Regions from separate parts of the Homo sapiens genome. Here region 2 is linked to region 1. A link means that fine-mapping ties the variant in region 1 to the expression of a gene that starts in the linked region. Tissue or cell type: macrophages. Region 1 holds a variant in brackets; the other region holds the start of a gene. All regions are shown on one strand. Distances are from middle to middle.

Region 1 (5,392 bases):
TAAGTGGCAGACAAAGCCAGAAACATGCTGTGGTTTAAGAAAGTCTCTTAGGTTATTTTCAGATGTTTCTTGTTTGGCAAGAGCCAGAGCACATTTTGTTGAGCACATTTTATTCCTATGTGTATTTTAAGGGAAATCTAACCCATGTGTTTTATTTCATTAATATTTTGCCAAGTTAAATGGTTCTTTTGTAAGATATATTTAATGTTGTTATTTTTATGAGACTTTTTCCCCTGGATTATGAATTCATATGTCACCTAAAATAAGTATACTTTGATCCAAATATCTTGTAGTTACAAAGTCAGAAACCCACAGAACTTGGGTGATTTTTCCAGCAGTGCCAAATACAATATTTTATGTGTACTACTAACATCATGTTTTTTTTCTCATATTTGTCAATCAGCACTTTATTGGAAAAACAAGAATTATCCACCTTTTAAAGTCCTGCTTTTTGATCAATATCCAGAGGAGACCATAGCCAAATTCAATATGAGCCACTGACTTCAGGTAGTGGGTGTAGATCTAAGTGTGTGATCTGTATAATGACTAAATCACAGCTATGCTGATTTAAGTGGATACATCAGAGGACTTGAATACTAACCCATAGCAGTGTCAAAAGTGACCAGGCCAGGCGCGGTGGCTCACGCCTGTAATCCCAGCACTTTGGGAGGCCGAGATGGGTGGATCATGAGGTCAGGAGTTCAAGACAAGCCTGGCCAAGATGATGAAACCCCATCTCTACTAAAAATACAAAAAAAAAAAAAAATCAGCCAGCATGGTGGCAGGCGTCTGTAATCCCAGCTACTTGGGAGGCCGAGGCAGAGAATTGCTTGAACGCAGGAGGCAGAGGTTGCAGTGGGCCGAGATTGCGCCATTGCACTCCAGCCTGGGTGACAGGGCATTCTCCGTCTCAAAATAAAAAAAAGTGACCAGTGACGATATGGACAAGAGGAACTTTCAATCAATACTAGTGGGAGTACAAATTAGTAAATTGCTTTAGAAAACAATTTAGATTATCTAATGAAGTTGCAGATGCACGTGTCATATAACCTAATAATTTCACTCCTTAGGAATAGTTCTGGAGAAACCTGTACATGAAAACCAGGACACATATACAAAAAACTTCACAGTGTCATAACAAAAAACTGAAAACAACTTAAATAACCATTAATAAGAAAATGAGTAAATAAGTTGTGATATTCATACAGTGAGATTATATAGAGCAATGAAAATGAATGAATTATAGACACATACATAATTATAGACACATTAACATGGATGAATCTCAAAAACAGGGTGCTGAATTAAAAAAACAAGTTATAGTAGAAAAATGCACTATGATTATATTTACATGAAGTTCAAAAATGTGTAAGAAAAGATGTTAATGTTTAAGAATATGTATAAATATATAACACTAGAAATAAAAACATGGAATGATATAAATAAAATTCAAGATAGTCATTATTTCTCATAGGATAATGGAATGTTGAGGAGCTAGAATACACGAAGAGCTTTAAGATTGCATTAATGTTCTATTTTCTAAAAGCTGCATGATATGTACGTAAGTTTTCTTTTTTTATCCTGTTTGTACTTAAGAAATATGTGGTGAATATTATTTTGTATTTATTCAACTTTTAAAACTTAATTGAAAATGCAGATTCAAGCATACAATCAACATACTGTATTATTTACCTGCAACCCCAATTCCCATGAAACCAAAGCAAAAGGTGCAGTCTGTCAGAGTTCAGTTATATGTTTAATGGTTCCTTTCCTGTTCTGACTTAAAAAAAAAAAATCCCTTTGGGTCTTTCTATGTCTTACATAGCTGGGCTATTTCTTGTATTTTCAAATTAGATTAAATACTATCAGGCAGCTTCTGTCATTCCATATAAGTAGTAGTGATTACTCTATCAGAAAAAAAATCTATAATAACATGGCATAGTAGTTAATGTTTGACAAGCAAGTCTCCATGGTGTACTATAGCTGTCAGTATAGCCATTAGTAACATGAAGACACAATGGGCTAAATTCTACAAGAGAATAGAGCTCTCCCTCCTTGAAAATAAGCACTGAACTCTTTCCAAACAAGGAATCTATTTATTGTGTAGAATCAATTATTTACAAACTGAGGGCAGCTAGCCTCTTTCTTCCCCTTTCTCTGCCTTTCTCCCCTCTGTTCCTCACTTACTTCCTTTTCCAACTTTATTATTGTTATTACTATTTTTCTTTCTTTCTTTCTTTCTTTTTTTAGAGTATCACTCTGTCACTCAGGCTGGAGGGCAGAGGTGCGATCTTGGCTCACTGCAACTTCCGTGCCCCAGGTTCAAGCAATTCTCCTGCCTCGGCCTCCCAAGTAGCTAGGATGACAGGCATGAGCCACCATGCCCAGCTAGTTCTTTTGTATTTGTAGTTTCACCATGTTGGCCTGGCTGGTCTCGAACTGACCTCAAGTGATCCACCCGCCTCGGCCTCCCAAAGTGCTGGGATTACAGGTGTGAGCCACCATGCCCGGCCCTTTTCCAACTCTATTAAATATCTATTTCGTGTCAGTTGCCAAATGTTTATGTATGCACTGGTGTCCCCAAAGAATTGCTGGAACTTCTGGCAGTGCATATCCTGCTGTCACAGCTCCTTTTTCGTTCTGGAAAAGAATGACCCTTTCTTTGGTTAATCAAGTGACACTTTCACAAATTTTGCCATATTTGTTACTTGCATAATTTCTTTTTTTAAAATTGTGAGTTCTACAACATATACAAATGAGCATATGTAATGTATATTTATATATAAAGAATAACATTATATATTATACATA[A/ATC]TATAGATTATGTATAATATATAATTTAAAGAATGATGACATTAACACTCATATACTCATGACTCAGGCTAAGGAATAGACACTAACTGCAATTAGAATGTATGCACTCCCCAATTTTTCCTCCTTCTTCTCATCTAGAAATAATGCACTGCTTGAATTGTATATCATCATTCTCTTGCTTTTTGCGTCATAGTTTTATAACCTATTTGTTTCTCTATTTTACATGTTTTGAGATATTAATATTAATGTGGTAATGTAGTACACATTCTTCTGTGACTCAATGTTTTTCATTCAACATTCCATTCTTGTGATTCATCCTATGATGCTGTGGATGATTTACTTTTTACAGTTGCATAGTATTCCACTGTATGTCTTTCTCTCATTTTATCCTTTCTTTTTTGATGGACATATGACTTGTTCCCAGCTATTGCAACTGCAAGAGTCAGCTTTGGACATCCTTATACATGTCTCCTAATGCAAACATGCAAGTGTTTCTCTTGGCAATGACATTGTTGGGTCATAGGATATGTGAATATCTCACTTTACTGAAAATGCTTATTTATTTTCCAAATAGCTGTACAGATTTACATTCTCATCTGCAGTGGGTGAGAGTTCTTTACATCATTATTAACAGTTAATAGTGCTTGTTTTCAAATTTGTCCTCATCAATGAATTTGGACATCTTTCAGTATTTATTTGCCATTCACATTTTCTTCTGTGAAGTGTTTATTCATATCTTTTGCCTATTTTTCCATTTGATTCTTGATCTTTCTCTTCTTGATGCATAAGTGCTCTTTGTATGTATTTTATGTGTTCTTTTTCCTGTATATGTATCTCAAATATGTCCTCCCAGTCTGTGGCTTAAAGTTTGATCTATTTATGATATTTTTAAATCTCCTTTGATGTATTTATTTTAACGTAGTCAAAATTATAAAATTTTTCTTTATGCTTTGTGCTTTTTTGTGTCTTATTTTAAAAATCCTTCTCTACATGATTATAAATATATTCTCCTTTGTTGTCTCCTAAAAGTTTTTAAAGTTTTGCATTTCACATTTAAGTCCTTAATCCACAAAGAATTGACAGTTGTTTGTGGTGGAATATAAGGATCTGTATTTAAAAAATTTTATTTTTGTATAATCAATTAGTAGAGTTCCATTTGTTTTAGGAGTGAATCCCTTCTCCAGTGAGCTGTACTGCCATCTTCACATATACCATTTTCTTCTAGGGAAGAGTCTGATTCTAGAATCTATAATATGTTTTGTTCTTTTAGAATATAGTCTATCCCTGCACCAATACCACATTGTTTCAATTACCATATTTGGTAGAGCACATTGCCTTATTTTTCCTTTCTCAAAATTATTCCAGTGATTCTTGGCCCTTAGCATTTCCATGTAAACTTCAGAATCAGATTGCAACTTCCATGTAAAACTCTATCTAAATTTAAATTAAATAGTACGGGTCAGGTGTGGCAGCTCACACCTGTAATACCATCACTTTGGGAGGCTGAGGTGGGCAGATGGCTTGAGCCCAGGACTTCAAGACCAGCCTGGGAATTATTGTGAAACCTCATCTCTACAAAAAAAATAGAAAAATTAGCCAGGTATGGGAGCATGCACCTGTAGTGGCAGCTACTCAGGAGGCTAAGGTGGGAGGATTGACTGACCCTGGGTTGAGACAGGGCTGCAGTGAGCTGTGATCATGTCACTGCCCTCCAGCCTGGGTGACAGAGTGAGACAGAAAAGGAAAGGGAAGGAAAGGGAAGGGAAAGGAAGGGAAGAAAGAAAGAAGGAGAGAAAGAGTATGAAATGTACAGATAATTTGGGAAGAATTAACATTTTTACATTAAATTTTCACATTCATAAGGTTGCCATAATTCCAAAATTATTTAGGTCTTCTTTGATGTTTTTCAATAAATTATTTTATTTCATATTTGGCTTTGTACATTTTTTTGCTAGGTACCTTATTTTTGTTACTATTGTCAATGGTGGGAATGCAAATTGATAAGACTGTTCTGGAAAACTATATGACAGTACTTTATGACACGGAAGAAGCACGTGCCTGTCCCTGGCAATGCCAGTCCCAGGTGTCTACCAAGGGAAGCTCTTGCCCGTGAACACCAGGAGATCCGTAAAAACAGCCTTATTCACATTCAAAAACAAAAAACAATCCACATGTCCATAAGCAGTATAGTGGATAAATTATTGTGATAGATTCACTGAAATAGCACGTAGGAATAAAATTAACTAAATCTATGCATATTAACTTGTATAAACATTAAAATCATAATGTTGAGTGAAAAGAGCAAATCACAGAAGAATCCATATAGAATGATCCTTTTCATATAAAATGCAAGGACAGAAAATATTATATTTAAGTATATTAGGCAATATGTTAGCAGCACAGGCATATGTGGTAAGATTATTAAAAAGACAAATAAAATTAGCATTAAACTCAATACAGGAGTTACGTGGAAATGCAAGGGAACAGAGTTGTTATTGGAGGGGCACATTGTCAGCTCTGAAATAGTCATTTTCTATTTCTTAAGTAGGCTAGAGGGAACATATGCGTTTGTTTTATTCTT
Region 2 (5,392 bases), 20 kb before region 1:
AGGGTGTAGAGTCCTGAATTGGACACTCTATGGAACTCCAGTAAGAAGAGCAGAGTGATAAGAGTATGGGAATCTAGACTCAACTGGATTCCAAGCTCAGCTATGCCATTACCTGCAGTGTAAATGTGGGCAGGTTAATTAGACTCCCTGAGCCTGGAATTCCTCCTTTGCTCCTGAGGATTGTGATATGGGTTGTTGGGAGGTTTAAGGAGATGATATAAAACATTTAACACAGAGCCTGGCATATGGCAACCACAGAAAAAGTGCCAGCAATCATATCCTTAAGAGTACTATTATTCCTATAGATGGTCCACCAGTTAACACATCCCCATGCCATACCTTTTAAAAATTAATACATGACTGTACTGTTCACTAAATTGGGTTCACAGAGCTAAAGATGTTTAGGTTGTTTCCATTTGAGCCATATTTATATCTTTGTTGTCCTTTCTCTATCTTAGTCATCCTGTCCTTACCTCTGGGTTGTTCACTTTTCATCTGTAAACTTCATTCTCTTGAATGGGTCCCTGTTGATTTTTTGGCAACCTTATCTTGTTTCCTGGAGAGATAGTTTTACGGTGATCCTACCCACACCAAGGTTGAACAATAACAGTGAATGTTTTTACAGAGCAGAAATGGGCTAGAATACAATGTATCTCAAACTTTTTGTGGCTGGGTAATCCAAACACCTGAGTTTTCCATGGAAGTGTAGCACTCCTTCCCGTGTTTATTAGTGAGAAAGGAGTGGCCCTCCAGGGCTCCAGCTACTTTCTTTACTACTTTTCAAGGTGACGTACACTCAATGCCCACTAATAAAACATTAGTGGCTTACTCTATTATGCATCTGTAGATTCTGCTAAATGAAAATATACATGAACTGGAGGACTTAATCGCCACACTATTGGGATACTGCCTATAGAATAATTGAAACTCTTGGGGGAGATTTCAATCACCATAATTAACTCAAGAAACCAACTTATTCTGAAGAATTCAGCCTCTAGCTTGCAACTTAGGTTAGGGTATACCCTGGCTTCCTCACTTCAGAAAATTCTAGAATGACAATATTTATTTACATTACGCTTTAGACTACATTACTCTGCATCAAAACATTTTCATTTTATTCACCTGTATTAAAAATGCTCATTAACAAACTTAGACCCATTTGGGCTCTAGAAACTTTCAATAAAGTTCTCAGATTTTTCCCTTGAAAGAAAGGATTACAGATTCTTTTGAAGGAGCATCTTTTTCACACAGCGTGAAAGGACTACAGGCGTTCCCATGGGAATTGGCTGCATACATTTCAGCCCTTCCCACAAGATGTCTATTGTTCCCTGGATGTCTCTGGGCTTCCTTGGCTGTGGCGTGCTGCTACACTTCACTTCTACTGAAAGCCTCTGAGTCTGGCTTATTCTAAGCAATGCTAAAGGCTTCAGCCCTGTCTTTTTGCTAGAGTACATACGATCTAAGTTTGTAGCAGGCTTATTTCATAAGTACATGAAAAAAATAGATTTGGTGACCTATTTAGTCAAGAGCCCAAAAAACTACTTAATTTTGATTACCTATTTCAACTTATTAAAACACAAATAGGAAACATTTCCTTCAAAAAGGATGAGAAACACTTATCTTCAAGTCTAATAAACTTTCTAAAATCAAGGCTTTTGTGACTTGTCATAATTTTATAGTGTATTCATTTTCACCTGTAAATGTTGACTTTGTTGGTCATTTTTGCTCTGGAATAATACAAATCTTGCTGAAAAATCCTAATTCAAATTCGTGGGTTTGTTCTTCCAGAAAATGTACCAAAACTCTCAAACTACATGGAAAACTCAATGTTAAATGTATCTTCATTTACATTTAAGTTTCATGTACCAAATATCTATATGACCAACTCAAATATTTCTCTAAATATTTTTTTCTGCTTTTTAAATCAAAAATATATAAATGTCATTTAATCCAATGGTTGATTACTACAACAATTTAAGTGTGTATCTGAAAGAGTAAAAAAGTGGTTAGATTTAATTATGATTTGTAAGATATCTGAAACACCAAAGGAAAAAACGGCAGCAGCAACAAACAGTAATGGTGACCCTGTTCAACCCACTGACTGTAATGATGCTATAATATTTAATTTTCTTTGAAAATCCGTAGGCAGAGCCAGTTTCTTTGCTGGTTGCAAAATGTTGATTGAAGTAAACAAAAGTATAAAATAGAAATGAGACTAGATTATTACGGAGTAAAACAAAAATGCACATGATATGAATCTAGAAGCACAGCTTTCTGCTCCTGAGGCCTAGAGACATGTTTTAATAACCCACAGAGAAGTGGCATTTTTACTCTAATAACCGAAATGCCTGCATACATGGCTAGACACACAGCTCCCAAATGTGCTTTATCTGCATAATCAGCCAGCCCCTGGAAGTTTCTCAGCTCCATTCTCCTATCCCCCACTCTTTGCTTCTTTGCAGCCTCTGACATTTACTTTAATTAGCTTTTGTTTTTGCTGAACAAAAGGTCATGAAAGAAGATAGCCATACCTCTTTGCACAGGAATCTCTGGTCATAGAAAATAGAAGGCAAAATCCTTGATCTTTAGAGCACTGCAGCTGGGACCCATGACCATGCTCAGAGGCAGCCTTGCAGCTGCTGCCCAGTCCTGTGGGCTGCAGCCGCGTCTCCCTGAGCTGCCTGTCAAGCCAGTGGTACATTTCATTCCCTCCCCATTGACTCACCGTGCGGAATCAGGCAAATGAGTAACTTTTCTTCTCTCTCCCAAACTTCTGCTTAGACCTAACAATTGACGCAAAGCTTCACTTATTTCTACACTAGATTTACAGATTTCTCTGAGCAGATCTGTAGTTTGAAAGAATTAGATTTGCCTAACAACCAGTAATTTAGGTTCTGTTAATGAATAACTCACTTTAAGAAATCAAGGAAGTTTTAGGTTAATATCAGATGTGGGGCCTTTTAGCAGGCATCAGGAAAAAGGCTTGGGGAGGGAATGCAGGAAGGGAAGCACTGGAATGAAATGGTATTTAAGCCAAATATGATAGAAGAAAAATACCACAAGAGAAGCAAAATAGCTAGGGTAAAGGAGCAAAAGTCTAATTATACTATTGGTATTGCTTACGAAACACACAACAACTTAATGAAACTTCCCTGGTAGCACTAGAGATTTTTCTGAACCCTCATGGTTCCTTCTTGCATCCACTCAAATTTCTAACTCCTTCCTTTTACCATCCAAATATAGAACTCATCTTTTCAAACCTAATTCATTGGGGATCCCTCACAAGCACTCCCACATCGCCTCATCTCTCTCTCTCTTTTAAGGAGAATGCACTTTAAAACCTCTAATGCATAAATTAATTGGTGGTGCCCAGTGGATTATTATATCTAGAGGCTCTTCTCTCCCTTTAAGTGTATGGCATGGGCTTTCTTCCCTTATTGATCTGAGGTTTTGCCTTCACATAAAGTGATAAAACATTTCTGAGTCTCTCCCGACCGGAACTTTCAGTCAAACCATGTGAGGGTAACAGGGAGGGTGGGGGCGGGGGCTGCAGTGGGGAAAGTCAGGTGTAAGATGTACAAGTGGAAATAAAAATATTTCCATTCAGTGGCAATCATGCTGCATGTAAAAAAATTACTAGTCCAATTAAAAGGACTACTCATGGGGTGAAGATTACTTTCTCTTGTGTTTGACACTCAACATTCACTTACTCTACTTTTAGTCAAAACTGCACCCAAATTTCCCTTGGGAAACCATGTCCTTTGGGTACAGCTGATGCCCATAAACAGGATGGGCCTTAATTGGTCTTACCCAAATTAGAGTAATTGCATTCCTGTGATCATAGTGACTAATGCAGGGCAGGTGTGCGACCCCTTCTAGGCCAATGAGAGGACAATGATGAAAGCTCAGCTTTGGGAGTAAAAAGTCTAAGCTGCTGGACTTGATGATAAGAAGGTGTAAGGTCTGGCTGCTATTGCCCTCTTGCCACCAAGAAAACTGTTGACTTCATTTGGGCCCCTTAAACCACCTGCCCCTAATGCTAGCAAGACCTACCCTTCAGTGTACACTAATAAATTCCTTAATAGCTTAAGTGATTTTAGATTGGGTTTTCTGCCATTTACCATTAAAAAATTTCCACCTGACAGAATCAGCCTAACCTAGTTTTGTGGGAAGTCTCTCCTGGGTGCAGCTCATTGAAAATTAAGTGGACTAAGAGACTCAACAGGAACTATCTATGACAAATGGGCTCCTTCAGTGACAACCACAGGCTTCCTCTGACAACTAGCAGATGCAAGAAAGGCCTGGAAAGGAATGTAGTCATTCAGTGTACCTGAAAACAGGACCTTCTAAATTATTTTTTCCTAACCAGCTACATAGTCATTTCCTCAATACTTGAGTCCCCCAAAATAATTAAATTTAATCTCTTAGACTTGCCTGGCAGTACCTAGCCACATACCATTTGACCTCAATACCCTTGTCATGGAATCCATCCATTCATACACAATTTTCAAAAATTTCCTAAAATCACTTACGCTATTAAGGAATTTATCAGTGGACACTGAAGGGTGGAGCTTGCTAGCTTTAGGGGCAGCTGGTTGAAGAGGCCCAAATGAAGTCATCAGGTTTCTTGGTGGCAGAATGGCAACAGCAACCAGATATTACACCTGTTTGTCAAAAATGTATTTGAGTAATCAGTTTTACAGAGTATTGCTTTGTCTTTATTTTTCCCCTCTGTTCTTGTCTAACTCTCACTCCTTCCCCTCCTTTGGGAAACTTGAAATAAAACATTGTCTGTAACCACAAAATCAGACAAAGACGTTTTCTTTACAGAAAAGAGGTAAATTCTAAGGCAACTTACATAGGTGAGTTACATATAAACACTGAGAACTTCTGAATGATTTCATTTTCTATAAACAGTTTTTCTTACCTGTAATCATGAAAGCTCCTGTAAGCACACCATTTCTATGGTCAGCCTTCCAGCTTTGAAGAGTCCATTGCAGGCACAAAAACTCAGACACAGCCAGGAACTCCCTTTTGGCTCAGCAAAATAGCATGTGGCATGAACTATGACAGTCAAGTTTCTTTCTTTCTTTCTTTCTTTCTTTCTTTCTTTTTTTTTTTGAGAAGAAGTCTCGCCCTATTGCCCAGGCTGAAGTGCAGTGGTGCGATCTTGGCTCACTGCAACCTCTGCCTCCTGGGTTCAAGCAATTCTCCCACCTCAGCCTCCCTAGTAGCTGGAATTACAGGCGCACACCACCACACCCGGCTAATTTTTTTTTTTTTTTTTTTTTAGTTTGTTTGTATTTTAGTAGAGACAGGGTTTCGCCATGTTGGCCAGGCTGATCTCAAACTTCTGACCTCAAGTGATCCACCAGCCTCAGCCTCCCAAAGT

Which allele goes with the higher level. Alleles are on the strand shown, and positions count from the first base shown. SD is a standard deviation of normalised expression in the study named.
In carriers of allele A in region 1, the expression in macrophages of the gene that starts at base 2,671 in region 2 tends to be lower than with ATC alone (moderate effect, 0.64 SD a copy in Alasoo 2018).

Evidence for each region. PIP is the estimated chance that this variant, and not a neighbour inherited with it, causes the effect. A credible set is the group of variants that fine-mapping cannot tell apart.
Region 2: it holds the start of VEPH1, and the variant in region 1 is the best candidate, but not a certain one, in a credible set for the expression of VEPH1 in macrophages (Alasoo 2018, PIP 0.53).

Annotation. Positions count from the first base shown.
Region 1 is chr3:157,520,878-157,526,269 of GRCh38, forward strand. No RefSeq gene overlaps it. Among named protein-coding and RNA genes, the nearest start is that of VEPH1, 20 kb to the left of the region's middle. The variant A/ATC (reference allele first, on the strand shown) is at 2,812.
Region 2 is chr3:157,500,746-157,506,137 of GRCh38, forward strand. VEPH1 (ventricular zone expressed PH domain containing 1) reads right to left here and starts at 2,671. Exons shown (of 14, transcript NM_001167912.2): 1 at 2,532-2,671. RefSeq lists a silencer at 2,464-2,698.